Homo sapiens: one gene and its partner. The protein of the gene in region 2 interacts with the protein of the main gene of each other region in a pairwise test. Each region holds a gene or a part of one and is shown on either strand. Other genes may lie near its edges. The genes, in order: TNS4 and KAZN.

Evidence for each region.
Region 1: the proteins of KAZN (region 2) and TNS4 interact in binary tests that used the Homo sapiens proteins (3 or more experiments, as listed by UniProt).

What each region holds. Positions count from the first base shown.
Region 1 is NC_000017.11:40,484,427-40,492,081, forward strand, and holds part of TNS4 (tensin-4 precursor), read right to left. Parts: intron 4,544-7,655; coding exon 4,120-4,543; intron 3,035-4,119; coding exon 2,610-3,034; intron 582-2,609; coding exon 495-581; intron 184-494; coding exon 58-183; intron 1-57. UniProt on the Homo sapiens protein: Promotes EGF-induced cell migration by displacing tensin TNS3 from the cytoplasmic tail of integrin ITGB1 which results in dissociation of TNS3 from focal adhesions, disassembly of actin stress fibers and initiation of cell migration.
Region 2 is NC_000001.11:15,091,409-15,099,063, forward strand, and holds part of KAZN (kazrin), read left to right. Parts: intron 1-2,771; coding exon 2,772-2,977; intron 2,978-3,406; coding exon 3,407-3,525; intron 3,526-7,519; coding exon of another isoform or gene 7,520-7,526; exon of another isoform or gene 7,527-7,655. UniProt on the Homo sapiens protein: Component of the cornified envelope of keratinocytes. May be involved in the interplay between adherens junctions and desmosomes. The function in the nucleus is not known.

The DNA of each region.
Region 1 (7,655 bases), on a different chromosome or scaffold from region 2:
CTACCACACCCCGCTGCCTCAGTGAGGCCTTGAGTGAGCACAGAGACAGACGCATACCTGGTCGACTCTGAGCAGACGCGGGAACCTCCTGCACCTTCAGGGCCAGGCCGAAGGAGCCTCGGTATGAAGAGCTGTCCCTTATGACAAAAGCCCCTGGCTCCTCCTTCCTCAGCAGCTCGATTGCTGGAACAATCCTTGAGTCAGAGATGGACACCGCCCCACCTGGACACCCTGTCCCCAGCCCCGTAGGGTCTTCACAGAGCAGATGTTACAGAGTCACCTTTTGTCCCCAGGAAGTCCTTTGTACTGTCAAATCTCCACCATTCTTGCTGTGGTTCCTACTTCCTCGGGAGGTCATGAGGTCAGCAGGACATCCCCCTCCCCCGCTTCCCAGGACCCACTATTTGCCATTCCTTAACTGTAACCCAGGGCCCTGCCTGATGCAAAGTGCAAGACCCAGACCCTATTCTGGGGTCACTCGTGCTTCCTTTTACCTTGCTCTCGGGTGATGTTTGGCTTAAACCAGTATTTAGATGTGTCCATCACGAACTTCATGGTGGGCTGCATGTCCCTGGCGGGACCTGGAGACAGACAGAGAAGGGGGACCCTGTAGGCTGGACAGACGGGAGCTGAGGGATGTTCACCAGAGAAGGCTGGAGACCCTTCCCTACTCTATTGCCCCAAGGTTTCATTCAACCACCATCCCAGACCCTAACCCCATTGTATCTCCAAACTGCCTACGATGAGGGAAAATCAAACAGAAGGATGCCAGGGTTTGGTGCATCTAGAACTCAGAAGTGCCCTTGTATCCTTGGTAATGAATAAGGAATGAATAGATACAACCTCAGTTTAAGGAGAAATGGTTTCTTAAATCTACTGTTGAGTCCCCTGGTGAGGACTGAAATAAGAGATAAACAAGGAATTCTCAAATGCATCATGTTTGATATTACATTCTCCTTCGTCTTCATAATCCTAAGAATTCCTTACGGGAATATTCAGCTTGGAAAAGAAAATGGCAGAAAACGTGAAGGAGAGGAAAATAGCAGATCTGGGCAGAAAAACATGCCCCTGGGAGGCGGGAGCCTGGATCTTGACTCTGATATGGGATAACTGAAGCTCAGAGGGGACCAAGTGGACTAAACAGCTTCTGAGGGTCTTTAATGTTCTAGTAGTCTATGGAATTAAAATGAATTTTGTTTTAGGAATATTTTGCAGAATTTGATAAGATCTGGGGGTATAGTTGGTGATATTATGGGACCAAAGCAGGATGGGAATATCACTAGGCTAAGTAAATGTGCGCTTTGGGATGCCAAAATGGCCATTTCCCTGGGTCCCTAAGGCAGAGAGCAGTAGCTGTCAACCTTGGCGGCTTGAAAAGGAGTGTTGTGACCACTTACTCTCAAGTAACTCATTCAAAAAAAGTACTAAAATCTGCAAATGATTTGTCCTAGGAAAGCGATCAGGGCAGATGCAAAGGCACGCCAGAAGTGTCATTTTCTCCTGCTTGCCTCCACATGGCTTCGTGAGTGGGAGTGAGCAGTGGGCTATAGTAAACATTCCACCCCCACCCCCTCTGGAGTCGCCTTGATGCCTGTGAGCGTCATGGCCAAGTGGGGGCTGAGAAGCCCCCCGATGGCCGAGGGAGGGGGAACAGGGGGTTGGCAGGGGACTCTGCTCATGGGAGAGGCATCCACAGGGTGCTAGAGCTTAGCTTCTGGGTTTACTGCTTGGGTTTGTTCTTCTTGGACGCCTGTGATCTCAGACTCCGGGAAGGAGGGTGTTTGCTGTTTTGTGGTTTTCGGCTGTCTGAACTGGAATGCATTGTCTCTATTACCCCATCCACCCCCTCTGTGTTCTCATCATCTGCGAACGTCAGAGTCAGAACTGACTCGCCCTCTTGCTCTCCTTGAGTTAGTCATCAAGCACATCCTGAGGGTCGCCTGGTTCTGTCCTCTCTCCTCCACTCCCACTGCCCTATCCCGGTTCAGGACCCTGCTATCCGTTGAGCTGCCAGGGTGATCCATTGAGCGAGCACCTCTGACCCCATCACTCTCCTGTGTGAGGAGGCTCTCTGATGGTACCCTATTGCTTAAAAGGCAAATTCCATTTTTTTTTTTTTTTTTAGCTTGGCATTTAAGGCCTTTCACAATCTGGTTTCAAATTACTCTCAATGACTTGAACCTGCACCCAACATTCCGGCATTTCCTGAACATGCCATGCGCTTCCACACCTTCATGACTGTGGACCCCCTGCTTTCTCTGCTGGGAATGCCTTTCCTCTCCTTCTCTGGCCACAAACTTCTGATCCATTTCCCAGATCCAGCTCGGATGTCGCTTCCTCTGTTCTCCAGACTGAAAGAATCATTCCTTCAGCTTTGGCCAATATGATTGAGAATATCTCTTTACCTCCGCGTTTATCCTACCCTACCGTGATGATTTGTTTTTGTCTCTTTCTAAACTGTTTCCCTCTGTGTGTCCTCACTACCTGGCATAGTGCCAGACACACAATAGTTGCTCAATAAATGTGTTGACTGGCTGTTGCAGAAACCCACTGGCACTTTGTCTATTCCCCAAATCTTACATTGCTTCAAATATTGGTTTACGACGTACCCTCTGGGCATGTGGTAAAGGGGGCATCTGACAGGGTCTGGCTGTTGCTCCTGGTGGCTGGACAGGGGTTGCTGGGAGAAGCAGCTCCAGGTTGAACGGAGTTCTGGTGTCCTGGGGTCCGCTGGGGTGGAGAAGACCCTGGTTCTGGGCAGCCGTTGATCAGCACAATGGGTATGTCCACCATGGAGTTGGTGATGGATGGGGGGCAGCTGCTGGCATGTTCTTTGGCCAGTGGTGGAGAGTGGGGTGTTCTGGGTTGGCCCATGGTTAGGGTGGGGTTTCTGGGAGCCTGGAAGTCACTGGGTCTTGTACACAGGGACACTGAGCCAAGGCTGTGGAGGCTGGAGGAAGAGTTGGCTGGACTTTCCAAGGATCTGGAAGATGACTGATGGCTGGAGTTGCTGGAGTGCAGGAGGGACTGGCTGCTGCAGCGGGAGAGAGTCAGACAGGGTGTTAGGGCAACAGGTGGCTCAGGGGCTAGAGTCAGGCTCCGGATCTGGTGATCTGGGTTCCCATGGCTTTAAAGGCCAAATAGAACACTGCATACCCCACCCCCTACAGCCCACAGCAAAGTGCATGCCCACCTAATCCTCAAGGGATGGTAAGGATACAGAAATGTCCTTGGATGGTAGGGTCTTTGGTCACTTAAAGTAGCCAATGAGCTGACCCCTGCAGGCTTTGGGCATAGGCTGGCCCACATTCCGTCTGCCTTCCCAGCCAGGCCGTTCTGACTGAGCTGTCGGATCAGGATCCCTTCAGGCCCCCATGACTCCCAGGAGCCCTGCAGATGGGCTGAACCTACGCTGGACCACACCGTGGCTGATGCAGAGGGAACTCCCCAGCTGCAGGAGAAGGCCAGCTTCACATCCAGCCAGACTTCTTCCTGAGCTCAGGGGCCTGTGCCAGTGGGCATGGCTGTGGAATCCCCAGCCTCTGTGCCAGGGACTGCCTTGGCCAGTGGCTTTGGAGGTGGAGTGGGAAGCAGAGTCCTGTGGTTCGGTCTTCCTGGGGCAGAATGGGTGCGCATGTGCCTGCAGTTCTGCTGTGAGGTCTATAGAGAACTGAGCTGGGATGATTGTGATTCCCAGGCAGGGCTGCCTCACTCCTTTGCTAGGTTTTGCCAGCAACAGAGGAAGGAACCTTTTTATTCCTAAATAGTTCATCTCAGGCCCCCCAATTCTATTTATAGCCCTGTGTTTTGGGGTTTAAAAAAACCTTCCTTGAGATGGGTTGTATGAGGGCTGGAAAGGATATAGATGAGCCTCATTAAGGCAACGGCTCTTTTACCAAAAGGTAGCTATAAGTCAAGACTTTTTATATTGAATTGTATTCTAAATGCTTGAGGACAGCTTGAGATCTGAAAGGCTGTAAAAGCAAACATTTGCTTCTGGTTTTGGTGCATGCCCAGATTTTGCTCAGACAGAGCAGGGTCCCTTTCAGTGATTTTAGGGGGTGCATGCGTGCGTGTGCCTGTGTGTGTGTGTGCAATGTTAGAAGCTACAGAACCTACCTTCCAAACATATAGCTGACATCAGACACTGGGCTGGCTGACAGCACAGAGATCCTGCTGCCCCGCTGTGGGGCCAGGCCTCCCAGCCGCTTCTCCAGTCTTGGAGAAGCCACCAGCGGGGAGCCCAAACCATGGGGGCTCGAGGCCTTGCTCCCCATGCAAGGGATTGAGATGCTGGGGGAATTTGGGGGTCGAGGGGAGAGACCCTCTGAGGGGGGCAGAGGGCGCTGGTGCCCCCTGCCCTGGTTCCCAGAGAAGATGAGGCTCTCACTGCTGCTTCGTGTCTCTCGGGGGACGTCTCTGGAAAGGAGGAGGCCACCACTGCGAAGGGAGCCGAAGGGCGGGGTGACAGAGGGGCTGGAGCAGTGCTGGGGGCCATCGTGGCACCTTGATCTGGCGGAGGTCACCTCGATGTACTTTATGTCTTTGGGGGAGAAAAGCAGAGCATTGGTGAAATGCAGGAGCCTGGACTCATAGAACAGAGAGGCTGGAAGTATCCTCAAGGTCATTCTGTCCCCCCTCTTTTATAGAGACGAGGACACTGAGGCCCAGAGAGGAGAGCCCAACTCCACCTTCAGGGCCCAGTTCCAGTCACCCTCCCTGTGACAACTTCCCTTGGGTGAGGAGATGCAGTAGGGGACCCAGGCCTTGGAATCAGACAGACCCAGGCTTCAGATCTGGCTCTGCCACTTATTTTCTGAGAGAGTTTGGCCAAAAGACTTCACCACCCAGGGCCTCAGTTTCCACACCTGTAAAGTGGGGCAACTGCATTCAGCCTTTTGGTGATACAAAAAGGATGAAGTGAAACTCATGTAGGCAGCACAGCACTGTTCCCGGCACAGACCAGGTGCTTAAAAACTGGGCAACTCTCTCCTTTGTCTGTGCCCTGTTCCTAGGTTGAAATGGCCACTTGATGGGTTGTACCAGTGACACTTTCTGATGCCTCTGCTACTCAGGATGTGTGAAAGTGGTTTCTCTGAGGCTGGGCGCGGTGGCTCACACCTGGAATCCCAGCACTTTGGGAGGCCTAGGCGGGTGGATCACCTGAGGTCAGGAGTTCAAGACCAGCCTGGCCAACATGGCAAACCCCATCTCTACCAAAAATACAAAAATTAGCCGGGCACCTGTAATCCCAGCTACTTGGGAGGCTGAGGTACAAGAATCGCTTGAACCCGGGAGGCAGAGGTTGCAGTGAGCCGAGATTGCGCCACTGCACTCCAGCCTGAGTGACAAGAGTGAAGCCCCATCTCCAAAAAAAAAAAAAAAAAGGAAGTGGTTTCTCTGTACCTGCAGTGAAAGCAGGGATTCTCAAGCTTGGTTACACACTAGACTCACCCCAGGCTGCGCCTTGTGCCAATTAGATTAAACTCTCCAGGGGGTGAACCCAGGCCTCAGTTTTGTTTGTTTTCCAGTTTTTCAGGTGAGTCCAGTAGACCATGAATGGCTCAGCAGGACCACATCACCTGGGCTCCACCCCTACAGAAACATAATCTGCATTTTAGCGAGGCCACCCAGGGCATGTGAATATGCAGTGGAGTCTGAGAACCCTGCTTTGGAGCAGGCACTCCCTGAGCACAGGGCTTGCTGCATTCTTGAGCTATGGATCTCCTGGGGATGGTAGCTGGTACACAGGGGTCACCCAACACACCCCAGGCTGCCGACGCGCTCCAGCGCTCTTTCCACTCCCTGGTCGGGGCATCCAGGACTCTTGGGATTCTGAGGCCTTGTTCCTCTCCCGAGGTCGGCCTTGCAGTGGGCTGCTCTGAGGTTCTCCCCAAGGTGAGGATGAACACCCTTCCTCCTGACCTGGGGGAAGGGAATTGTCCTTGGTGCTGTTCCAGCAAAGCTGGAGGAAGGTGGGGGTTAATGAGCCGCTCCTTTCTGAAGAGTGTGAGTCTTGCCTCTAGCTTCCTGGGATGGAGGCTGGGGAAATTGGGGAGAACGTGCACCCTCAGCTCCCACCTGCCTGGGGCCCTGGCACATGCACTGTTCCTCCCCATTATGACTGTGGAGCCCCAGCCTGCCCCAGCCCGCTCCTGGGTAGGGCCATCTGGCCCTGCTCACAGTTACTGCCTCTGTCTGAGCTTGCTTGGGCCACGGTGGGGGTGGGGAGTTACATCAGATGAGCAAGGGCTGGCAGCTGACTGGGACTTGCTGCTCAGCGGGTGGAGGAAGAGCCTAGCTTTGTAGCAAAACAAACCTGGGGTGAGTCCTGGCTTTGCTGCTTTTCAGCCAAGGGCATTGTGCAACTTTCCTAACCTCTCTGAGCCTCAGTTTCCTTATCTGCAAAGTGAGGATCTGAAACCAGTCTTCCAAGGTTGTGATGAGGATGAAATACAATAGCCGGGAGCCTGGCCCATGGTGAGGCTCGAGAGAGGAGCATTTCCTACCTGCCTGCTTTTTGGGGACAGTATTGGCCAAATGGAGCCCTTTTCTGGCTAAGGTGGGGATCTCTCTGCTTAGAAAGATGACTGCAAGAAGAGAGTGTTTGGGGCACTGCATTGTGGGCTCTGGAAGAAAAGAGATCTTGGAATGGGTTGGATTCTTCTGGAAGGCTGGAAAGCACAACTTCAATTTTTATAGGACTTTATAGTGTTTACACCCATAATCTCCTCTGAACCTTATAATAGCCCTTGAGCAGGGCAGGCATTATTTTTTACAGAGGAGGAAACTGAAGCTTGGAGAAGAGTGGGGATGGAGCTAACACTTAGTGTACAACGATGTTTCACAGAGACTGGTCTTTATTGAGTGCAATGTGCCAGGACCACTACGAACACATTGCTTGTATTAGCTCCTTTAACCCTCATGACAACTCTGTGGAAGTAGGGGATATTATTAATGCCCATATAACAGATGGGAAATCTGGAAGGCTCAGAAAGGTGAAGTGAGTTATCCAATGCTGCACAGCCAGGGAGTGTTGTTGAGCTCTGTTTAGGGACTGCTTCTTCCAGGATGAGGAGGGGCTCCTTGGGAACCTGCTCCAAGGCCTTGCCCTGTGAGAAGGTGCTTGGCTGCTTTGGGGAGGGTCTCTTGGCACAGTGAAGCTCTGGGCTCCCTACTCACTGGGCCATTGAAACATCCATCAGGGACCTTGCTGGGGTCACTGAGTAAGGAGAGCGGGAGGGGAGGGAGGAGCCCCGTGCTCACCTCAAGGTGGGTGTGGCTGGGGGGTGGGGTTGGGGCCTCTACCCATTGCAGGGGTGCAGTCGCTGTTTACTGGCCTGTGGGGCAAGTCTGAGCAGTGCTGGGTGGGTGCCGGCGCCAGCCCCAGGCAGGCGGGTGAGTGGAGGGAGGGCGTGTGGGTGAGGGGTGGAGAGATACTTATTAAATACCCTTCACTTGGGGCGGGTAAACAGCCTTGCCTGGCAGACATTGTTGGAAAATGAAAGTGGGGGGCCTGTTCCAAAGATGGGGTGCGGGGTGTTGGAGAGGATAAAGAAAGGGATATGGTGTTTGCTTCTAGGAACCACATTCTCTGTGGGATGGGGGCCCCCAGGGCAAGTTTAAAGGAAGGCAGGGGCAGGGAACCTGGGGAA
Region 2 (7,655 bases):
ATCTCGACTTACTGCAACCTCTGCCTCCCAGGTTCAAGTGATTCTCCTGCCTCAGCCTCTGGAGTAGCTGGGACTACAGGCGTGTGCTACCACGCCCACGCCGGGATAATTTTTTGTAATTTTAGTAGAGATGGGATTTCACCGTGTTAGCCAGGACGGTCTCGATCTTCTGACCTCGTGATCTACCTGCCTCCCAAAGTGCTGGGATTACAGGCGTGAGCCACCGCACCCGGCCGTGTTTTCCTTTTTCATTTGGCAGTAGGTGGTGGATGTTTTCCCGTGACAGGACTTTTTATTCATTGCACATATTCCAACATATGAATGGAGCGTCATTCCTTCAAACAAACTCTCATCAATAACCATTCATATTGCTTCCTAGTATTTAATTTTTCCAAAGTTTTTATTACAAAACTATACATGTTTACTAGGGAACTTTGAAAATACAGAGACATACAACAAAAAGAAAATAACCATATTCTCCCCAGCACAGAAAGGCAGTAACTATGAACATTTGTGTAGACTTATCACCTATTGTTTTAATGTTGTGTCCTGTCTCTATGGATGGATAAGCATTTTTTTTTTACATTCTTGTAATGATTTATAATATTGAATTTCAGCAGGGTCATTTCTAATCAGAGGTTTTGTTTTTTTGTTTTTTTTTTTGATTTTTTTTTTTTTTTTTTTGGAGACGGAGTTTCACTCTTGTTGGCCAGGCTGGAGTGCAATGGCGCAATCTCGGCTCACCTCAACCTCCGCCTCCTGGGTTCAAGCGATTCTCCTGCCTCAGCCTCCCGAGTAGCTGGGATTACAGGCATATGCCACCACCCAGGCTAATTTTGTATTTTTAGTAGAGACGGGGTTTCTCCATGTTGGTCAGGCTGGTCTTGAACTCCCGGCCTCAGGTGATCCACCTACCTCGGCCTCCCAAAGTGCTGGGATTACAGGCATGAGCCACTGTGCCCAGCCAGTCAGAGTTATATTTAAATACTTGTTGTTTCTCATGGTATTGAGTTTGTCTGTTTGGGTGTGTGTGTGTGTTTTTATTTGTTTTGTTTTGTTTTGTTTTGTTTTGTTCTGTTTTGAGTTGGGGTCTCAGTCTGTCACCCAGGCTGGAGTACAGTGGTATGATCTTGGCTCACTATAACCTCCGCCTCCCTGGCTGAAAAGATCCTCCTACCTCAGCCTCCTGAGCAGCTGGGACCCCAGGCACACGCCACCACGTCCAGCTAATTTTTTTGTATTTTTGGTAGAGATGGGGTTTCACCATGTTGCCCAGGCTGATCTCAAACTCCTGAAGCTCAAGCATTCTGCCCACCTTGTCCTCCCAAAGTGCTGAGATTATAGGCGTGAGCTACCACGCCCGGCCTGTTTAGGTTTTTATCGAACCCTCTTTTAGAGAGATTCTTTTCCCCTCTCAATTGAGTCTCTGTAACCTGAACTTTTCATATTTACCAGGCCTTGATGCAACGAACCATATATAGAAGAGTGGGGTTAGAAAATGTTGGTGGATGAACTTTTTTTTTTTTTTGGTCTGTGAGGGCCATTCCAGAAACAGCTTTCAGTGTATTAAGGAATGGAGCTGGGTTCCATTTATCCTACGAAAATAAATCACCCAGTTGCCCAAAGACGACTGCCGCTGTGTTGTTTACAATAGTGAAAAATTGGAAACAACCGCCATGCCCATCAGTAGGAGGTGAAATAAATTACGGAGCCTCCTTCTGATGAATCCCGCGCAGTCAAAAGGTACCGCAGGTCTCTGTGGAGATGGAACAGTCTCCTCCACAGCGAAAGTGAACAGGCATATCACAAATGCACACACCTCAAATGCACGCACCCCGTAAGCAAGCGGGTCTGTGTGTGTTTGTAAGTGTGGCTTTTCTGTATCCAGAAAAGAGTATTTAACAGCTGCTGTCTCTAGGTGGTGTCGATCTAGAAGAATGATGAGACAGGTCTCAGTCATTTTAGGAGGTGTATTTGTCAAAGTTAAGGACGCGCGCCCAGGAGACAGGTCTGTGCCTTTCTCCGAAGATGATTTTGAGGCCTCCAGATTTAAAGGCGAAAGGATATTGAGAAGCACACAGTTTCATGTAAGAGGGGGGCGGGGGAAAATAATCATTCGTGCCTTTGTCTGGCCCAGTGAATCTGCATTTTTACATAAGGTAACATAGACAGATGGGGAACATGCAGGAAATCGACATTTTTACATAAGATAAAGATAAATGAGGCAGGGGAACAATCAGATATGCATTTGTGCCAGGTGAGCAGAGGGGTGAATACTGTGTAAAGATAAGCTATCCATTTACATTGCCATGGTGAATTTTAACAGAAATGCTTTAGGGTAAATATCTCCAAGCTCGCCAGGAATTTCCTTGTGGGCAAAATATGAGGGAGGTGTGTAGCAGTTCATCTTATTTAGGAATCAAAACGGGGAGGCAGGTTTGTGTGACCCAGTTCCCGGCTTGACTTTTCCCTTTGGCTTAATGAGTTTGGGGTCCCAAGATTTATTTGCCTTTCACAGTCACGTGGGGTGATCTTCATTTACTGTTTTATTTTTTTCTGGGATAAGCTTTTCTTCTTTTCTTTTCATAGATTACTTTTGTAATGGGGGCAAGGGCAGAAAAACAAAAACGCCAAAAGCCACTTTGATTTTGAAGAGAATACATGGAGGGGAGGATGTCCCCACCACCCTCTGCCTCCCGGGGGTATGGCCTGCCCAGCCCCTGCCCCCAGCAGCCTCGTCCCCCAGCATGGCCTGCACTTGTGTGTTGCAGACTCGGACAGCCAGTGCAGCCCCACGCGGCAGAGCCTCAGCCTGTCGGAAGGCGAGGAGCAGATGGACCGGCTGCAGCAGGTGGAGCTGGTGAGGACCACCCCTATGTCCCACTGGAAGGCGGGCACCGTCCAGGCCTGGCTGGAGGTGGTGATGGCCATGCCTATGTACGTCAAGGCCTGCACGGAGAACGTGAAGAGCGGGAAGGTAGGCAACTCCGGGCCCCCTATGGGATGCCACCCATGCCCTCTGTGAGCTTTACGTACCCAGAAGCTGGCCTGCCCCCCACTCCTACCCTGGAGTCAGGAGAAGGTGCAATCTAGGAGCTAGCCAATGCAATCAGCCTCTGATGTACCTGCTCATTGTGCCTCCCTGGCAAGGCAGAGAGCCCTCAGCTGCCTCATCCTGACAATGGACCCAGGTTTCCTTTACCTGCCTAAGGGAAAGGGCTCCCTCTGCCTGAACAGGGATTCCGCCCCACATCAGAGTTGCAGAGGTTTCCATGTGCCCTGACCCCACTGTATGAAAGGTGGGCAGGAGATGGGGAAGGAGCCCCATGTCAACAGACCCCCTCTAGGGCAGGAACCCCGCCGGCAGCTGTCCCAGCCCCCATATGACACTCCCTCCCGGGGGCAGGTGCTGCTGAGCCTGAGTGACGAGGACCTGCAGCTGGGCCTTGGGGTGTGCAGCTCCCTGCACCGGCGCAAGCTGCGCCTGGCCATCGAGGACTACCGTGATGCCGAGGCAGGCCGCAGGTGAGCCCACCACGAGGGGCCCCGGGGGAGGAGAGAAAAAGTCATCCTGAGGCCTTTGGTCACACAGGTGGGGTGAGCGGGGCACTGTGGGCTGAACCAGGTGGTGGGGGACAGCAGGGTGTGACTAAGATGGTCCGGGGATGCCCCTGATGAGGGGGCTTGGGCATACCCCAGCCCTGCTCTGGGCCAGCCCCCTCCGTAGAAAGACAGACACATGGGGAAGACAAGAGGCCCCAAAGGCCCTAGTACACCCCCAACCAATGCGGGAACCTCACGAGCCCCCCAGCACTCCTCTGCCTTCCGGGACCAGCCCAAGCAGCTCTGCACACTGGGCCGCCATGGTGTCTGCTCCTGGTTCTTACCATACATAACAGGGTGAGGAAAAACGGTGCAAGGCAGAGCCGAGGCAGGCAGAGATCAAGTAGGCGTGAGTGGGCTTGGTGAAACCTCTCCCATAGAGGAGCGGGCCAGGTGGAGGGGGCTTCTCTTAGCAAGCATACCTGGGATGGCTGCAGGGCCTTCTCATCAGGTGTACCCCCGCAGGCCACCCACCCCCACCGCTCATACCACTCCTGCTCTGCCTCCGGCCTGCCTGCCTCTCTCCTGGCTTTCTGTGAGCAAAATTTGTTGAGCAGGGGCAGCTACAGGGTAAAGGGAAGGAACCCCCACCCCCACCCCGCCCCACCCCGTTCTGAGAATGTGGAGAGGGGAAGAACTCGCTTTGTAAATCTGACACTTCTGTTTTGCATAATTATGTCCTTCACTGGTTTCTCCATCATTTTTGTGTAGTTAGTTAATCAAACCTGGTGGTGTGTGCTGTAATTTGCAGAAGCAGCTTAGGGGATTTTTTTAGAAGCAGGGTTTGGGGTGGAAAATCGGCTGGTTTGGAAGCAGGAAAACCAAATCCATATGTGTGCAGGAGAGGGGCCCTCGGCATGACTCTAGGGTGGCAGGAAGTACTGAGGTGAGACTGGATCAGAAACTTAGGGAGCGACTCAGAGCAAGAAGGTGCCAGGCCTCATTGGCACCATCAGGATGCTGGCTCGTCTGAGACAGGGCTGGGCTGAGGGATGGGGAGGAGGGCCATGAGGGCAACCCCTGCTGGGCTTTCCTTCCTGAGGGTCCCAAAAACACCTTACACCCAGCACCCACCTCCTAACCAGTTCCATCCAGGAATCCCCTAAAGCCATCCCTGAATCCCCTCACCATCTTTGGTCACCCAAGTAGGAAATCCCTCCTGCCCCCTTACCCCACACCCAGCAGGGTCCATAAACACTGCCTGTGTTCAATGAACAGGGTGGGGATGACTGCTTCATCTTTCAAAAACTTCAGGAGTCTGGGCTACTGCCTGGGTTCCCCCTAAATGGGGATAAGCTTTTCTTCTTTTCTTTTCATAGATTACTTTTGTAGTGGGGGCAAGGGCAGAAAAACAAAAACACTAAAAGCCACTTTGATTTTGAAGAGAAGAAATGCATGGGGGGAGGACGTCCCCACCGTCCTCTGCCTCCCAGGGGTGCGGCCTGCCCAGCCCCTGCCCCCGACAGCCTCGTCCCCCAGCATGGCCTGCACTTGTGTGTTGCACAACACAGCCCCTAAATGGGGCTGTCTTAGTCTGCTTGGGCTGCCATAACAAAATGACACCATCTGGGTTGCTTAGACAACAACTTACGTCTCACAGTTCTGGAGGCTGGAAGTCCAAGATCGGGATGCCAGCATGGTTGGGACCTGGGGAGGGCTCTCTTCCTGGCTTGCAGAAGGCAACCTTCTTGCTGTGTCCTCACATGGGGAAGAAGGAAGAGGGAGGGGGAGAGAGTGATGTCTCTGGTCTCTTCCTGTAAGGACAATAATCCCATCATGAAGGGCACCCCTATGACCTCATCTAATCAGCTCCCAAAGGCCCCAGCCACAAATACCATCACATCGAAGGTTAGGATTTCAGCATGTGAATTGGGTGGGGGGCATGGCAGAGGGAAACATTTAATCCCTAACAGTGGCACCACGTTAACCTCCAGGAACCAGGAGTCTGTGGTCCCAGGGATCGTGGAGCCCCACCCTTAGACACCCCCAGGGCTTCCTGGAGGAGGCAGAGGACTTATTTTGAGTTTTCTACTCCCAGTGGGAATCTGGCCTGTCTCCAGTTTGCCACATGACCTTGCCCTCTCTGGGACTGTTTCCCACCTGAGAAGTGAAGGGAGTTAAATTAGGACAGTGGTTTTTAAACTTTTGAGGATCATGACCACTTTAAGAATCTAATAAGAGCTTTTGACACTTTCTCTAGAAAAAATACACAAAACTTCACAACTTTTCACTGTGTTGGGTTGGTGGGTGGGACTCTCTGGCCCACCCACTTTCAGGGCTCCATGGACTCGGGGGTAAGAACTCTAAATGAGTTCATCTTCGAGAACATTTTCAGCCATGACATCTTGTGTGACCATGGGCATGATGGCGTCCTCTCTGGGACTGGTCACCTTATCTACAAAATACCAATGACAAAACCCACCAACCCCTTACCAACCCATCATCACCTTATGGATATCATTTTATTTACCCTCACAACATCAATGCAGGATAGACATGCTTACTCCCATTTTAAAGATGGAGAAGGCCGGGTACGATGGCTCACACCTGTAATCACAGCACTTTGGGAGGCCAAGGCAGGTGGATCACCTGACATCAGGAGTTCGAGACCAGCCTAACCAACATGGTGAAACCCTGTCTCTACTAAAAATAGAAAAATTAGTAGGCGTGGTGGTGTGTGCCTGTGATCCCAGCTACTCAGGAGGCTGAGGCAGGAGAATTTTTTGAACCCAGGAGGCGGAGGTTGCAGTGAGCCGAGACTGCATCATTACACTCCAGCCCGGGCGACAAGAATGAAACTCCGTCTGAAAAATAAAGTCGGAGAAAATTAGATGCAGAGAAATCATGAGCATAAAGTCACACTACAAAAAACCTGACTTCAAAGTCAGTTGCCTTTCCAGTGTCCCATGCTGCCTTTGTGTTAAAAACAAGAACAATGACAGCTTCTACTACTACTATTTATAGAACACTAGGTGTGTCCCAGACCCTGTGTTAGGGGTTTTGCATTCTCCTCTCTTTTAGTCCCTACAACTCCATGAGGCAAGCGCAATTCTCCCCGTTTTACAGAGGAGAAAACGGAGACCCAGAGTTTCAAGGTCCCAGAGCTAAAAAGTAATAGAACCAGAACAGCTTCCCGTTTTCCGTGCTGCGCCGTGACCCAGACAATATCTAAATTTTGTGCCGTCCTCAGATTTCAGAGTCTAATCCGGCTCCAGTTCAGGGATGGGGCAGTGACAGATTTTATAAAATGTCTGAATTCCTTTTAAAATCATGCTGTTTTATTCAACTTGGGCTCTTACAATAAATAGCTCAAACCAACAGCTGGGAACGTATCGCCAAGCTGCGGCCCCATGGGGACACCCTTAATGAAAAGAGAACATTTCTGAAGGGCAGGAGCACATTAATTGTGGGCATGCAGATGGAGATTGCTGATTATGGATGGGCCCCTCTCGAGTAGGTTAAGTGGGGTGCCCCCTTTGCAGCTCTCCACCCCAACTCTTGTTGCACCATTGATTTGCTGACCAAACTCTTGCTTCAGAGAGGAGAGGAGGCCATTCTAGTCTTCATCAGTGACAAATCTGGCCCAGTGGCATCTGATTCAGAGGGCTGTGGGCTCCAGCTCCTGCCCGAGAGAACCGTCCTGTAACAAGGCTGAGGCCGGCCCTTGAGGGACTGGGAGGGGGACTGCCCCAGGACCTTTTCATCCTAGAAGGGAGGTTGTCTTGGGCCAGAAGTTTCCAGTTCAGGAGCTCCAGCTGGGCAGCCTCCAGGTGGACTGGGGCAGATGACCCGCTCACCCAGCACTGCTCTGTCATCCACACATTCGACTATGAGACAAACACTGGTGAGTGTGAACTCAGAGCCTGAAGGGGCCCTGGACATTCACAGATAAGCCACACCCCACCCTGCCCCCCAGGAGCTGACCGTCCAGTGAGGCAGCTGGCCAGATGCGTAACCATGAACCACAATGTGACTGGTGCAGAGATGGGGACTTCCAGGGGCTTTGGACACAGAGAAGGGCTCCTGACCCAGCATGACATCTTGGAAGGCTT